Linked DNA regions of Homo sapiens: region 1 is linked to region 2. Evidence: fine-mapped expression QTL. Tissue or cell type: sun-exposed skin. Region 2 holds a variant in brackets; the other region holds the start of a gene. All regions are shown on one strand. Distances are between the middles of the regions.

Region 1 (8,092 bases), 75 kb before region 2:
TCCTGCCTCAGCCTCCCGAGTAGTTGGGATTACAGGCGTGTACAACCACACCTGGCTAATTTTTGTATTTTTCGTAGAGAACAAGATTTCACCATGCTGGCCAGGCTTGTCTCAAATTCCTGGCATCAAGTGATCCACCTGTCTAGGCCTCCCAAAGTGCTAGGATTACAGGCAAGAGCAACCACACCAGGCCCCTTGTACACTGTTGATGGGAATTTAAAATGGTACAGCCACTACAGAAAACAGTTATTGCAGTTCCTCGGAATGTTAAAAATAGAATAACCATTTGATCCAGCAATTCCATTTCTGGGCACATACCCAAAAGAATTGAAAACAGAGACTTATATGTTCACAATGTCAGGTTAAAAAAACAATAGCAGGAACTTGAAGAGACCCATGTTCACTGAAGCATTATTCAGAATAGCCAAAAAGTGGAAGCAACCCAAGTGTCCATCCATGATGAGTAGATAAACAAACTATGCAAACAATGGAATATTATTCAGCCTTAAAAAGGACGAGAGCCTGGGCAACATGGCAAAATCCCACTTCTACAAAAAGAATTTTTTAAAAAATTAGCCGGGGCCAAGCACAGTGGCTCAGGCCTATAATCCCAGCACTTTGGGAGGTCCAGGCAGGACGACTGCTTGAGGCTAGAAGTTTGAGACCAGGCTGGGCAACACAGGGAGACCCTGTTTCTACAAAAGTAGAAAACTTAGCCAGGTGTGGGCCGGGCGCAGTGGCTCACATCTGTAATCCCAGCACTTTGGGAGGCTGAGGCGGGCAGATAATGAGGTCAGGAGATCGAGACCATCCTGACTAACACGGTGAAACCCCGTCTCTACTAAACATACAAAAAAAAAAAATTAGCCGGGCATGGTGGCGGGCGCCTGTAGTCCCAGCTACTCGGAAGGCTGAGGCAGGAGAATGGCATGAACCCGGGAGGCAGAGCTTGCAGTGAGCCGAGATCGCGCCACTGGACTCCAGCCTGGGTGACAGAGCGAGACTCCGTTTCAAAAAAAAAAAAGAAAACTTAGCCGGGTGTGCTGGTGCATGCTTGCAGCCCTAGCTACTTGAGGGGGTCAAAGCAGGGGGATTGCTTGAGCCCAGGAGGTCAAGGCTGCAGTGAGCTATAATTGTGCCACTGCATGCCACCCACGGCGACAGAGTGAGACCCTATCTCAACCCCCCACCCCCAAAAAGAAATTCTGATATACACTAAACATGGATGAACCTGGGGCTTGAGGACATTATGCTGGGTGAAATAAGCCAGTGACAAAAGGTCGAATGCTATATGATTCCACTTACATGAGGCCCCAATAAGTAGATAAACTCACAGAAAACAGAAAGATGAATGATGACTGCCAGGGGCGGGGAGAAGGGGGCAAGGTGGAGTTAGTGTTTAACTGGCAGGGAGTTTCGGCTGAGGAAGATGAAAGTGCTCTGGAGATGGATGGTGGTGATGGTTGCAAAACAAAGTGAATATACTTAATGCCACCAAACTATACACTTAAAAATGCTGAAAATGGCATGAACCTGGGAGGCGGAGCTTGCAGTCAGCTGAGATGGCGCCACTGCACTCCAGCCTGGGCGACAGAGGGAGACTCCATCTCAAAAAAAAAAAAAAAAAAAAAAACACGCTGAAAATGGTAATTTTATGTTATGTATATTTTACCACAATCAAAAAATAAAATGTAAAACTGGGACACTGAAGAAATGTGATGACAAATGATCTTACTTTGGCTCCTAGACCAGAAAAAATTCCTCTAAAGGACATTATTGGGATAACTGGCACAACCTGAATATGGACTGTAAATTAGGTAATTAAATCAATGTGAAAATTGTCCTGACTTTTATCATTGTACTATGCATATTTAAGAGAATCTCCTTTTTAGGAGGTACTCACTGAAACATGTAGAGATAACAGGACATACGTATGCAAGAAACTCTCAAATGGTTGGGGGTAGGAATAAATAAATATAAATGTATGTACATGTATTATATATATGTATATGTATATGGAAAGCAAGAAGAAAATATAATAAAACCCAATGGTAACAAATGGAGAATCTAGATGAAGCTATACAGGGTTCTTTGCACAGTTCTTCTAACTTTATCCTAAGTCTGAAATCATTTCAAAATAAAGTTTTTAAAAATTAATCTGTCCAAAATAGAGTTTCTTATCCCCAAACTGCTCCACACAGCAAACCCATCATAGAAAATGGCAGCTCTTTCTCGTTGCTCACATCAAAACTCTGAGAGTCCACCCTAACTCTTTTCTTTCACACCCATTCCCATGCCCCAGCAGATCCTACCGGCTGCACCTCGGAAATAGTTTTAGCACTTGTCCCTCGGCCTCCCCGCTAGTCCGGATCAGCCTGATCCTTGCTGGGTCGCTCCTCACAGGTCCCCTGCTCGTGGACTCGGCCCCCTCTGCGCTATTTTCAACACATCACCCAGAAGGATTCCGTCAAAACCCAAGCCAGGTCGTCACCCCCTGCTCGGAACCCTCCGACACCCCACATGGCCTACAGGGAGCCACAGAGGGGTCCCTGCTGCTTCTCAGCCCCTCCGGCTCCCGCCCCCATCCTCCTGACCTCCTGCTGCCGGCGACCCCAAGCCCGGGAGCCCTCACGGCGGGGCGCACCCCTGCACCTCCTGTCTGCCCAATGTCACTGCCCAGAGCACCCTGCGGAACAGCCCACGCTCCCCCCAGGTCCCCTTCTCCTTTGAGGCCCCAGGCCGCGGAGCTACTTGTTCATCGTGTTTCCCTCCACGAAACCAGTGCTTCCCGAGTGGTTCCTTCAACCCCGCTCTGGCGGGCGACCGCTGATGTGGACAGAGCGAGTCACCGGGCGTAGGGGTCCCTGGGAGCCCCCCCACCCACCGCCTCTGCCCTCCCCACGTCGAGAGCCGTTGCCCGTCAGGGGAAGCTGCACTCCCACGGCCCATACAAGTGGGAGGCCTCTGGGGAAGCGGCCCTGGACATTCCGTTTGCCTCTCTGGAGGGGAAGGGGTGGCCCAGAGCGAACCCCCACACCCCCTCTCCCATTGCCTGCTCACCCCATCACCTCCCCTCCCTACAAGGCCCTCTGTGCAGCCCGGGCTGGCACAGCAAGGAAGGGGGGCTCACCCCAGAGCGCCCCCGCCTGCCAGCCCGTGGGTCGAGGCCAAATAAGGCCGGACGGCAGCCGAGGGCCCCCGCACCCCGCCCGCGGCCCCGCCCCGCGCACATTCTTCTGCCTTGTAAGGCCCGGCCGCCACGCCCCGCCCCCGCCTGGAGTCCAGACCCGACGGCCGGCCCAGTTCCACGCACCCAGCGAGCCCAAGCGCCTTCTCCGCACCAGGTGGGATCCGGGGCCCCGGGGGTCTTGAGGACAGGCCTAACGGCCCAGGGCTGGAGATGAGAGGTGGCCCGGGCCCGACCCGGCTGTCACGGGGGGCAAAGGCGGGCCCCACGGACTGGGACGTGGTAGGGTCTGTTGGGCACGGACTGAGGGGTGAGCTGGGGCAGCGAGTTTGCTGGGGGCCGACAGGGACTCTGGCCAGGGGCCGGGCAGCAGGAAGGCTGTTCTGGCCTCTGAGAAGCAGTGGTCCTGCGGCAAGGGAAGGCCATCGTCCAGGCCCTGCCCCTTTGCTGAGGAGCTGGAGATGCCAAGCCCAGAGCTCCGGGGGGGGCTGGGGAGCCCGGGTACAAGGGTGCTGGGGAGAGGGTTGCAGTCGTCAGTTCCCCCTGGCCCAGTAAAGGCATGTGTGTCACAGATGGAGAAACAGCCCTGTGGGACTCCACGCCCCCACAGCATCTGTGTCCCCTCCCCATCTCCCATCCCTACACCCTGGGCCAGGGGAAAGGGACCGAGACCAGGGGGCCCTTCCGACACAGCCAGTGCTGTATGCAGGGACCCGGGCCTTCCCCTCTCTGGGTCATCTCGCCTGTGGGTGGGGAAGGTCTGCGGAGGGCCCTGATGGACTCACCCCTAGGGGGCAGGACGAGGACTAGTGGCTGGGAGAACCTGATCCCTGCTCTTCCCAGCCCTCCAGCTGCTCTAAGGAGGAGACTCAGATGAGGTGCACTGAGAAGGAGGCATCTGGCCTGCCCAGCTCCAGGGGCTGGAGGTCATGGGGGCACTGCCCTGTGCTGGCTTCAGCCCAGCCTTTTCTGTTATGGTGGGAATCTGGACACCAGGATGGGGGACATGGCATCCAGTCACATCCAGGCCAAGTATCAGTGCTGACCCCTGGTGTCTAGGGCACCTGAAGGGGGAAGCGATGGCCTCAGAACTAAAGGCCCCACCCATGCCTGCCCCTCGCCCCTCCACCAGTTCTAGAAGGCGCCTCTGGATACACAGAGCCCTTTCCCACTCCACTGCCACAGGCCCGCCTGAGGACTGGGGCTCCCTGTTTTGTTCAAGCCTCGAGGGCACCAGCAGCCAAGTTTGCTCTCCACTGACCCAAACCTAGCCCAGGAATCCTGTCTTCCAGGTGGCCCCTCCCCCTCTCATGGGCACTCCACTCCCCTTCTGGGGCCTCTTTTCCTAGCTGCACCATGGGGGCACCCCTGCCTCCGCTCACCACTTCCCACAATTGCTGGGGTGGACATGGCGGCCTTGTGCAAGCCCTTAAGTACAGTGCTCCCAGCCACACCACAGCAGAGAGTGCAGACCGGGTGGCCATGAAGGCAGAGGGGCCCAGCTGGGCTCAGACCCAGCTGTGGGTGGCCTGGCCATGCCTGCCCTAGAGCTTCATAGAGTGTGGTGGGGACAGTGATGGCCATCACAGCCTCTGTTGGGCACAGTGCACTGCCTCTCTGCATGCAGCCTTCTGTGGGCACCAGGAGTCAAAGTTCCCGAGAACACTGGACTCAGGGAAGGACTAGGCCCCTCTAAAGCACGGGAGAGGAGGGGGCCGGCATCTGGGGACAATGGCACTCCCAACTAGGTCATGGGTGAGAAGGAATTCTGTCTACCTTCCTGAACCATGCAAGAAACACTGAGGGCTGGGTGTGTCGGTCCGTGGGACACGGGCAACCACTGTCTCATGACTACAGGCAGTGATGGCCCTGGGGACCAGCTGGGGCTGGCCGGGATCCCAGTCCAGGGTTGATGATCTCAAAGGCCAAGGACCGAGAATGACTTCAACAGAGTCATGGGAGGAAGGCCTGGAAACAGCTCAAGTTGCAACCACACAGCTTGGGGTGAACAACAGGCAGAGGAGGCTTCCTGGAGGCCCTGGGCCCGGGGGTTTGGGCAGAGGGAAGAGGGGCCGCAGTCCTGGAACCTCAGCCAGGCCCACTGCCCCAGCCGAGGGAAGGAGGCACTGGGTCTTCAGGCGCATATCCCCACAAGCTGTGGCAAGCATTCAGGGAAACAGTCCCAGGCCTGGTCTCAGTTTCCCCATCTGTACAGTAGAAGCAGCAGACTGGCCGTAGTTGCCTTCATATAGTCATTCATCAAACAAGCATCTGTTAGCCCAACTATGGCCTGGGATTGGTGTAAACTGGGGGATCTATGCTGGCCCACAAGGGAGAGAGATCTTTAAGTGTTTACTGTGGAAGCAAGGGTACAGGGAACAGCTCCCTAGGAGAGGGGGGCGGTCTCAAGAACTGGGCTGGAGAAGAAAGAGCACAGGGGAGGAGGGGACCACAGAGGAAAGCCTGGGAGTGTCCAGGGAACTGCAGAGGTCAGAAGGGTAGGATTGTGGGTCACAAGAGGGACACCACGAGGGCTGTCAGAGAGGCCAGGAGGGACTCACACAGGGCCTTGAATGCCAGGATGAGGGACCCAGACTTGCTCTGAGGGGCGGCAGGAACCTTCAAGGGCTTCACAATGATAGGTGTAGGTCAGGGTCTGTATGGGACAGAAGAGGCCGGCTGGAGGCTAAGAAGCCAGGTCTAAGCAAGGGTGAAGAAGCTGGGGTTCTCAGCCCAAGCAAGCCTCACACCCCGATAAGCAGTGGGGAGTGAGAACAAGGAGTGGGACCCAGGATCAGTCTGTGACCACTCACCACTGGGGGGCTGGTCAAGCTCCCTGAGGTGGACAGGCGGGGGTTTGACTGCCCAGAGCCTCCTAGAACCTCAGGCGGGCAGCAGAGGGATGGAGTGGGAGAGTGAGGAACGGCAGGAATGCAGGAATGCTGATCCAGCTCCTTCCTGCAGGGCCAGGGAGCCTGGATGGCAGCCCAGGAGAGCCCTCACTGACTCCCACGAGTGGACCCACCTTGTCACTTGGAAAGAGAGAGGGACAGTGTAAATGCTATTAAGGATTAAAGGAGATAAAGCATGGTAATGGTTGGCACCAAGCCCAATCCTAAGTGTTTTACCCAAACAGTCACAGCCAAAATAGCTGATTCCATGCCCGGCACTGTTCCAGGAGCTCTCGGGCACTGAGTCAGTTAATCCCTACTGCTGGGCACTCCTCATGTCTCCAGTCCCAGATGAAGACTCTCGGGCTCAGAGAGGTAGAGGAAGTTGTTCAGAATCACACAGCCACACTTGTCTGCTTTTGTGAAGAACTGGGTGGTGGGAGCCCCAAATCCGTGGGCAGCCTTGAATGCCAGGCCGAAGTGCTAAAAGCCAGTCTGGGGGAGGCAGGAAGATTCCCTGGCCCAGAGTCACAGGGCCACCCAACCCCCACCCCTTCCTGCAGGGAAGCCCCACCCACCAGAAGCCAAGATGTCCAGCAAGCGGGCCAAAGCCAAGACCACCAAGAAGCGGCCACAGCGGGCCACATCCAATGTCTTCGCAATGTTTGACCAGTCCCAGATCCAGGAGTTTAAGGAGGCTTTCAACATGATTGACCAGAACCGTGATGGCTTCATTGACAAGGAGGACCTGCACGACATGCTGGCCTCGCTGGGTGAGCTGGGACAGGGACAGGGGTGAGATGGATGAGGCCAGGCAGGCTCTGCCAATCATTTACAGGGCACCTCCTGTGTAGTGAGACGCGTGGTGTCCACCTTAGAGAATAGTTGCCATTAACTTAGTCCATTCAACAGGGAAACTGGGCCGGGCGCGGTGGCTCACGCCTGTAATCCCAGCACTTTGGGAGGCCAAGGCGGGCGGATCAATAGGTCAGGAGATCGAGACCATCCTGGCTAACACGGTGAAACCCTGACTCTACTAAAAATACCAAAAATTAGCCGAGCGTGGTGGCGGGCGCCTGTAGTCCCAGCTACTTGGGAGGCTGAGGCAGGAGAATGGCGTGAACCCGGAAAGCGGAGGTTGCAGTGAGCCGAGATCGCCCCACTGCACTCCAGCCTGGGCAACAGAGCGAGACTCCATCTCAAAAAAAAAAAAAAAAACAGGGAAACTGAAGCACAAAGCAGGTCCACCACAGGGTCTGAACGTAGACAGGCTGACTCCACAGTGGGCCTGTCTTAGGCAGATTTGTGCACTGGGCTGCCAGGTATCATTTCATTTAAAGAAAGGGGTCAGCTGGCCAGGCGCTGTGGCTCACGCCTGTAATCCCAGCATTTTGGGAGGCCAAGGCGGGCGGATCACGAGGTCAGAAGATCGAGATCATCCTGGCTAACATGGTGAAACCCCGTCTCTACTAAAAATACAAAAATTAGCTGGGCGTGGTGGCGGGCGCCAGCTACTCGGGAGGCTGAGGCAGGAGAATGGTGTGAACCTGGGAGGCGGAGTTTGCAGTGAGCCAAGATCACGCCACTGCACTCCAGCCTGGGCGACAGAGCAAGACTCCGTCTCAAAACAGAAAGAAAGGAAAGAAAGAGGTCAGCATCTAAATGAAAGTGTGAACTGCAGGCTGCCCACTGCACAGATGGGGAAACTGAGGCCTAGAGGGGCGGCCAGACCAGCTCCCCTCCTTCAGAGGTCACCCATCTCAGGCTCTCATAGCCTCTCTGGTCCCAGTGACTTCCTCAGGATCAGGACCTTAGAACTAACAGGGTACAAAAATCAAGTCCAATTCTCTACTGCAGATGGGGAAACACAGGCCCAGAGGCAAGGCCTCCACAGACCATGCCCCAACCCACGGGCCTGCCCCAACATCCCTCCCAAAGTGCTGGCCACAGCCAGCCACTCTCAGCCCAGTTCCCGCGTACCCCTCATGCCGAGTGACAGCATCCAGACCAGACA
Region 2 (8,100 bases):
GCAGTGTGCTAGACTTAAGAGGTGTTATTTTTTATTCGGCCACAAGATGGCAAGGCCAGTGTGCTAGGGAATGGTAAGCCACAAAATGAAATAGAGATCTGAGAGCTAGGCTGGGTGCCGTGGCTCACACCTGTAATCCCAGCACTTTGGGAGGCCAAGGTGGGTGGATCACCTGAGGTCAGGAGTTCGACACCAGCCTGGCCAATGTGGTGAAACCCCATGTCTACTAAAAATACAAAAAAATTAGCCAGGCATGGTGGTGTACGCCTGTAATCCCAGCTATTCTGGAGGCTGAGGCAGGAGAATTGTTTGAATCCAGGAGATGGAGGTTGCAGTGAGCTGAGATCGTGCCATTGCACTCCAGCATGGGCAACAGGGCAAGACTCCGTCTCAAAAAAAAGAAAAAGAGCTGGGGCTGTTGTCCTCAATGGGGGACATTTGAGGACCTAGACTGTCCGAAGTCTTTCTCTTTGCTCTGGAGGTCACATAGAGCCTGGACCATCCAAGATCTGCTGCTACGGTAAGACATCATCTCAGCTTTCCTTTCCCTTCTAGGCCACAGTCCTACCTTCTGAGGTATGGTGGTGGTCTCAACGAGACTTGTAGATTTTCTGAAAATGACTTTCTCGTTGACTCTAGGGGTTGTTTCTACCTTGTGGGTGGGGCCTGGTTAATGGTGGGGATGTAGAATGGGGCTCAACAGGCAGGGCATCCAGATGGTACTGGAAACCCCAAACTCAAGAACTAACTAGGTCAGACCCCCCAGGAGGCTTATTCTCTTTTTGGAACCCTGGCCCTGGTCCCACCTTCTCTGCACTCGCACTAGAGGTCGCAGGTGGGATCATGGCACTGGAAGGAAGTAGGTGACTTCTAAGGGCTAAGAGAGGAAAGAGCAAGGGTACAGGTGGGACCCTAGATGCACCTCTGTGTCCCACCCTCCCTCCCTGAGTGCACAGCCTTGCCTCTGGGGTGCCCAGGAGGCTGAATTGGGGTTCTAGGTGTGCAGCCTTGGTTTCCCTTTTGGCCTCTCCTTTGGGCCTAGGCATCATCCAAAGAGACAGCCTCGTCATTCAGGCTGATGTAGAAGCTGAGGGACTCCCGGAGACCCTCACTGAGAAGAGACTCCTCCCCTGTGGCAGCTTCAGAAAACAGGAGGGAGCTGTGGACAAAGGAAGATAATTGGGTCAAGAAGCCTCTTCCTCCTCCCTGTACTCACTACACACAAAATTGCACTGTTCTCAAAACCCTTCACTCCTGCTGAGGACCTCATGGGGCTCCCCTGTTCCCTATCAGATCAGCTTCCCCAGCCCCACCTGTCGAGCCTGGGCCGTGCTCCAGGAGTTGAGTCAGTGCACTCTGGCTCCAGCTGCCAGGTGTCCCTGAGTGTGACAGGTACATTCCGGGTTGTGGCTTCCCAGGGGTGGGTCCTTCTAACTCTTGGTCCTGCTTTCATGTTTCCAGGAGTCCCCAACTTTACCTGTCCAGCTCTTTCCAGTTGAGTGGTGTCCTCTGCACAGTCACAGGTAGGGGTATATCCTTGCCAGGGAGCGGGCCAGCCCTCTGCAGGACACAGGGCTCCTTGAGTAGGCAGCAGATGTCATCCGCCAGCTCTGAGGAAGAGACCTCCATCCCTGACATGACTGACTCCACCCTACTTCTCCCCAACAGCCCTCACCCTGACAGCCCTCTGCAGTTGGCAGGAGGGGGCATGGTTACCAAAGAGTGATAGGACATGAGCCCCAAGCTATTGGTTTCATGGAGACAGATGTAGTCAAAGGTCTTTCTGGGCTAACTTTTGGGAGACAGTCACTGTATGATTTAGGGTGAGTTCATGGACCTCTTGAGCTCAAGTTTCTGGTTAGGAAATTGCTTTGGGAAGAAGAAAGCTAAGGAATGCTCAGTCTACTTCTACTCACTGTCTACTTCCACACAGAGTGACCTGCAGAAAACCCCTAATGAGTTTTCACAAGAGTGCTCTTCCCTCTCTGCCCCCTGACGCTGTGCCCAGTGACTGCATCTTCCAGTGTCTGTTGAAGGACAGGCACCAGGAAGTACTAAGGAGAGTCAGGATTGAATCCCACACAGCAGCAGCTCTGTGCCCGGTTCCTGTGGAGAGAACTCTGCCTGCTGCCAGGGGCTCTGAGTCAGAACCAGAGTGGTAGGCAAGGTACTGACCTGAGCCTACACAGGAGGTCTGTGGCTTTTCTGCCAGGGCACGAGGTGAAGACAGGGCTCCCAGCCTGCATTTCTTGGCATAGGGACTGGCGTGAAAATAGGGGAGGCCGCTCTTCTGTCTGTCTGAATACTCCACAGTAGGTAAAATATCCAAGGGCACCACTGCCTGCTCCTCCCCACAGACTATCCCAGCCTAGTCCTGGAGGCAGGGAAAGGCCATACCAGAGTAATGGTCCACCAGGGCCTGGAGTGAGGGGAAGGTGAGGCGCGGTGAGATGTACAGCCAGCCATTGTCAAGGCAGTGGATCCTGTAGTGTCTGATCCGGTCCCAGGATGCAGGGCGGCTGAGGCGGACTGACAGAGAGTAAGAGCCTGAGGAGAAAGGGGTCCAGGGGTGGCACTGAGGCCCTGCTGGGACTCGGCCCCACCTAGGCTGGGAAACGAAGATAGGCAACGTGACCATGGGGCCCCGGCAGAAGGGAAGTGTCTGGGGCAGAAGCAGGACAAAGACTTGCTCTCTTGGTCATCAATAATATGTTCATAATAGATGGGGGTCTTGTGAGGGTGAAATCAAATCACACACAGAGCCCTCAGTACAGGGTCTGGCACTGTGTGAGTGAACATTCAGCGTTGGCTGTTCTTACAAAGACTCAGGTGGCAGATATGTTAGGATGCAAAAACACTGTCAAGAAGATGCTGGCAAGGAAGTGGAGAAGTAGGACCTCCCACCCTGCTGGTGGAAGAGAAATTAGTACGAGCCACCTTGGAAACAGTTTGGCATTAACTAGATGAGCTGAACATGCACGTACCTTACAACCCAGCAGTTCTTCCCAGGCACAATACCTCAGAAGCACACAAGCAATATGCACAGCGGCATTGTTTGTAAAAGTCAAAAACGGCAAACAGCCCGTTTGTGCTCAAGAGTAGAATAAATTGTGGATTATAGAGTGTAGTGCTATACAGCAGTAAAAATTAATAACTGCTACATATAAGCATAAGGAAATCTTGGAAATTAAGCAGAAAAACATTACAGAGCATACATTCAGCCTGATTCTATTTAAAGTTCAAAGATAGCCAACATGACATTATATGTTGCACAGGCACACACGGCAAAGCTCTGAAGAAAAGCAACTGAATGATTAACACAGTGAAGCATGAGAGGGGGCTACAAAGGGCTTGTTAGGTAATTTCAGCTGGCAAGTGGGCGCGTGGATGTCAGTTTTATTAGTGCTGCTCAACCTACATGTATACATTACATACACTGATGAATGACAGTTTCACCAGCTTTGCATGTTTCATTTTTTCATTTTTTTTTTTTATTTTAATTTTCTTTTTTTTTTTTTTTGGAGACAGAGTCTCCCTCTGTTGCCCAGGCTGGAGTGCAGTGGTGCAATCTCGGCTCACTGCAACCTCCGCCTCCTGGGTTGAAGTGATTCCCCCGCCTCAGCCTCCCGAGTAGCTGGGACTACAGGCGCCTGCCACCACCACGCCCGGCTAATTTTTTGTATTTTTGGTAGAGA[C/T]AGGGTTTCACCATATTTGCCAGGCTGGTCTCGAACTCTTGACCTCGTGATCCGCCTGCCTCAGCCTCCCAAAGTGCTGGGATTACAGGCATGAGCCACCGCGCCCAGCCAGATTTTAATTTATTTTTAGAGCCATGCTCTCGCTCTGTTGCCCAGATGGCGTGCAGTGGCATGATCACAGCTCCTGGGCTCAAACAGTCCTCTTGCCTCAGCCTCCTGAGTACTTGGAATTATAGGCGTGAACCACCCCGTGCCTGGCCATATAAGCACATTTAAAATATTAAAACAGGCTAGGGGCAGTGGCTCACGCCTGTAATCCCAGTTCGAGACCACCCTGGCCAACGTGGTGAAACCCCATCTCTACTAAAAATACCAAAGTTAGCTGGGTGTGGTGGTGCACACCTGTAGTCCGAGCTACTTGGAAGGCTAAGGCAGGAGAATCACTTGAACCCAGGAGGCAGAGGTTGCAGTGAGCCGAGATTGTGCCACTGCAGTCCAGCCTTGGCAACAGAGCAAGACTCTATAAATAAATAAATAAAAAACCCAAGGCCGGGGACGGGTGCAGTGGCTCACGCCTGTAATCCCGGCACTTTGGGAGGCCGAGGTGGGCGGATCACCTGAGGTCAGGAGCTCAAGAACAGCCTGACCAATGTGGCGAAACCCTGCCTCTACTAAAAATACAAAAAAAAAAAAAATTAGCCAGGTGTGGTGGTGTGCGCCTGTAGTCCCAGCTACTTGGGAGGTTGAGGCAGGAGAATTGCTTGAACGCAGGAGACAGGTTGCAGTGAGCCGAGATCACACCACTGCACTACAGCCTGGGCAACAGAGCGAGACTCCATCTCAATTAAAAAAATAAATAAACAAGGCTGGGCAGAGTGGCTCATGCCTGTAGTCCCAGCTACTCTGAAGGCTGAGGCAGGGGGATTGCTTGAGCCCGGGAGGTGAAGGTTGCGGTGAGCCAAGATTGTGCCACTGCACTCCAGTCTGGATGACAGAGTGAGACCCTGTCTCAAAAAAAAAAAAAAAAAAAAAAAATTAAAACAAAAGTTAATGGGCCGGGCGCGGTGGCTCACGCCTATAATCCCAGCACTTTGGGAGGCCAAGGCAGGCGGATCACAAGGTCAGGAGATCAAGACCAGCCTGGCTAACACAGTGAAACCCCATCTCTACTGAAAATACAAAAAATTAGCCAGGCGTGGTGGCGTGCGCCTGTAATCCCAGCTACTCAGGAGGCTGAGGCAGGAGACTCGCTTGAACCCAGGAGGCAGAGGTTGCAGTGAGCCGAGATCAGCCACTGCACTACAGCCCGGGCGACAGAGTGAGACTCCGTCTCAAAAAAATTAGTCCAGGCGCAGTGGCTCAAGCCTGTAATCCCAGCACTTTGAGAGGCTGAGGCAGGCAGATCACGAGGTCAGGAGATCAAGATCATCCTGGCTAACACGGTGAAACCCTGGCTCTACTAAAAATATAAAAAATTAGCCGGGCGTGGTGGCGGGCGCCTGTAGTCCCAGCTACTCGGGAGGCTGAGGCAGGAGAATGGCGTGAACCCAGGAGGCAGAGGTTGCAGTGAGGCGAGATCGTGCCACTGCACTCCAGCCTGGGTGACAGAGCGAGACTCCGTCTCAAAAAAAAAAAAAAAGGCTAAAAGTAAAAAGATGGAAAAAAGATATATCATGCAGACAACCATAAGTAAGCTAGAATGGCTTATTAATGGGAGAATGTTAGTGGGATATTAATATCAGACAATAGAATTCAAAAGACTGGAGTGCAGTGGCATGATCTTGACTCACCACAACCTCCGCCTTTCAGGTTCAGGTGATTCTCCTGCCTCAGCTTCCCAAGTAGCTGGGACTACAGGCACGTGCCACCATGCCCGGCTATTTTTTTGTTTTTTTAGTAGAGATGGGGTTTCACTATGTTGGCCAGGTTGGTCTTGAACTCCTGACCTTGTGATCTGCCCACCTTGGCCTCTCAAAGTGCTGGGTTTACAGCTGTGAGCCACTGTGCCCGGCCAACAAATTTAAAAGGATTGAAATCATTAAAAATATGTTGTCTGGCCACAATGGAATTAAATTAGAAATTAATAAGGAAAAGGTATCTAGGCTGGGCGCAGTGGCTCAAGCCTGTAATCCCAGCACTTTGGGAGGCAGAGGCTGTTGGATCACCTGAGGTCAGGAGTTCAAGACCAGCCTGACCAACAAGGCAGCCTGACCATCTGTACTAAAAATATAAAATTAGCTAGGTATGGTGGCACATGCCTATAAATCCCAGCTACTTGAGAGGCTGAGGCAGGAGAATTGCTTGAACCCAGGCAGCGGAGATTGCAGTGAGCCGAGATTGTACCATTTCACTACAGCCTAGGGAACAAGAGTGAACTCCATCTCAAAAAAAAAAAAAAAAAAAAAAAAAAAAGTATCTAGAAGCCAGGTTTGGTGGCTCACGCCTGTAATCCCAACACTTTGGGAGGTTGAGGTGGGCAGATCATTTGAGGTCGAGAGATTGAGATGCGTCTGACTAACATGGTGAAACTCCATCTCTACAAAAAATACAAAAAAATTAGCCAGGCTTGGTGCCAGTAATTCCAGCTACTTGGGAGGCTGAAGCAAGAGAATTGCTTGAACCTGTGAGGTGGAGGTTGCAGTAAGCTGAGATCACGCCACTGCACTCCAGCTTGGGCAATGGAGTGAGACTCTGGGGGAAAAAAAAAAAAAAAAAAAAAAAGGCTGGGTGCGGTGGCTCACACCTGTAATCCTAGCACTTTGGGAGGCTAAGGTGGGTGGATCACCTGAGGTAAGGAGTTCAAGACCAGCCTGGCCAACATGGTGAAACCCCATCTCTACTAAAAATACAAAAATTAGCCAGGCATGGTGGCACACGCCTGTAATCCCAGCTACTTGGGAGACTGAGGCAGGAGGATTGCTTGAACCTGGGAGCAGGAGGTTGCAGTGAGCCAAGATCACGCCACTGCACTCCAGCCTGGGCAATATAGCAAGACTCTGTGTCAAAAAAAAAATTGGAGAGACTGAAGTGGGAGGGTCACTTGAGGCTAAGAATTAAAGACCAGCCTGGTCAACATAGAGACCCCCTTCCCATGTCTGTACAAATTTTTTTCTTTTTTTTTTTTTTGAGACAGAGTCTCGCTCTCTCACCCAGGCTGGAGTGCAGTGGCGCCATCTCGGCTCACTGCAAGCTCTGCCTCCTGGGTTCACGCCATTCTCCTGTCTCAGCCTCCCAAATAGCTGGGACTACAGGTGCCTGTCACCACACGTGGCTATTTTTTTTTGTATTTTTAGTAGAAACGGGGTTTCACCATGTTAGCCAGGATGGTCTCGATCTCCTGACCTTGTGATCCACCTGTCTCGGCCTCCCAAAGTGCTGGGATTACAGGTGTGAGCCACCGTGCCTGGCCAAAAAAAAATTTTTTTTTAATTAACCAGGTGTGGTGGTGTGAGCCGATAGTCACAGCTACTCAGGAGGCTGAGGCAGGAGAATCACATGAACCCAGGAGGCAGAGGCAATTATTATGCCACTGCACTCCAGCCTGGGCGACAGAGCGAGATTCCACCTCAAGAAAAAATAAAAACAATGCTGGGCGCGATGGCTCACACCTGTAATCCCAGCACTTTGGGAGGCCGAGGCGGGCAGATCACGAGGTCAGGAGTTCAAGACCAGCCTGGCTAACATGGTGAAACCCCATCTCTACTAAAAATACAAAAATTAGCTGAGCGTGGTGGTGGGCGCCTGTAATCCAGCTACTCAGGGAGCTAAGAATCACTTGAACCGAGGAGGCAGAGGTTGCAGTGAGCCGAGATTGCGCCACTGTACTCCAGCCTGGGCAACAGAGCTTGACTCTGTCTCAAAAAAATAAAATAAATAAAATAAAGAAGATACAGAAGAATATAATTTGAGAGACCTCTGAAAAGTATGGCAAGATTAAAACCATAGAAGTTATGGAAGACAAGCAGAGTCGAAAAAAGGATTTGCTTTTGTAACTTGATGATCAAGATATAGTTTTTAAAATTGTTCAGAAATACCACACTGGCTTTTTTTTTTTTTTTTTTTTTTGAGACAGAGTCTCCGTCTGTTGCCCAGGCTGGAGTACAGTGGTGAAATCTAGGTTTACTACACCCTCCGCTTCCCAGGTTCAAGGGATTCTCCTGCCTCAGCCTCCTGAGTAGCTGGGATTACAGGTGTGCACCACCAAGCCTGGCTAATTTTTGCATTTTTAGTAGAGACAGGGTTTCACCTTGTTGGTCAGGCTGGTCTCGAACTCCTGACCTCGTGATCCACCCGCCTAGGCCTCCCAAAGTGCTGGGATTACAGGTGCGAGCCACCACGCCCAGCCAGAAATACCACACTGTTAATGGGCATAATGGTGAAGTGAAAAAGGCCCTTACTAAATAAC

Direction of the effects. Alleles are on the strand shown, and positions count from the first base shown. SD is a standard deviation of normalised expression in the study named.
As copies of T replace C in region 2, the expression in sun-exposed skin of the gene that starts at base 3,302 in region 1 goes down (small effect, 0.19 SD a copy in GTEx).

The links. PIP is the estimated chance that this variant, and not a neighbour inherited with it, causes the effect.
Region 1: MYL9 starts here. The variant in region 2 is fine-mapped to the expression of MYL9 in sun-exposed skin (GTEx, PIP 0.92).

What each region holds. Positions count from the first base shown.
Region 1 is chr20:36,538,218-36,546,309 of GRCh38, forward strand. It overlaps MYL9 (myosin light chain 9), which reads left to right and starts at 3,302. Exons shown (of 4, transcript NM_006097.5): 1 at 3,302-3,344; 2 at 6,642-6,851. The coding sequence starts at 6,668. All of the region lies in intron 2 of DLGAP4-AS1 (DLGAP4 antisense RNA 1), which reads right to left. RefSeq lists a silencer at 3,123-3,322 and enhancers at 4,103-4,756, 4,757-5,410, 5,411-6,064, 6,065-6,718.
Region 2 is chr20:36,612,828-36,620,927 of GRCh38, forward strand. It overlaps SLA2 (Src like adaptor 2), which reads right to left. Exons shown (of 8, transcript NM_032214.4): 6 at 2,398-2,547; 7 at 1,478-1,610; 8 at 1-1,159. The coding sequence ends at 1,039. It also overlaps the pseudogene HNRNPA3P2. Among named protein-coding and RNA genes, the nearest start is that of RAB5IF, 11 kb to the left of the region's middle. The variant C/T (reference allele first, on the strand shown) is at 3,696.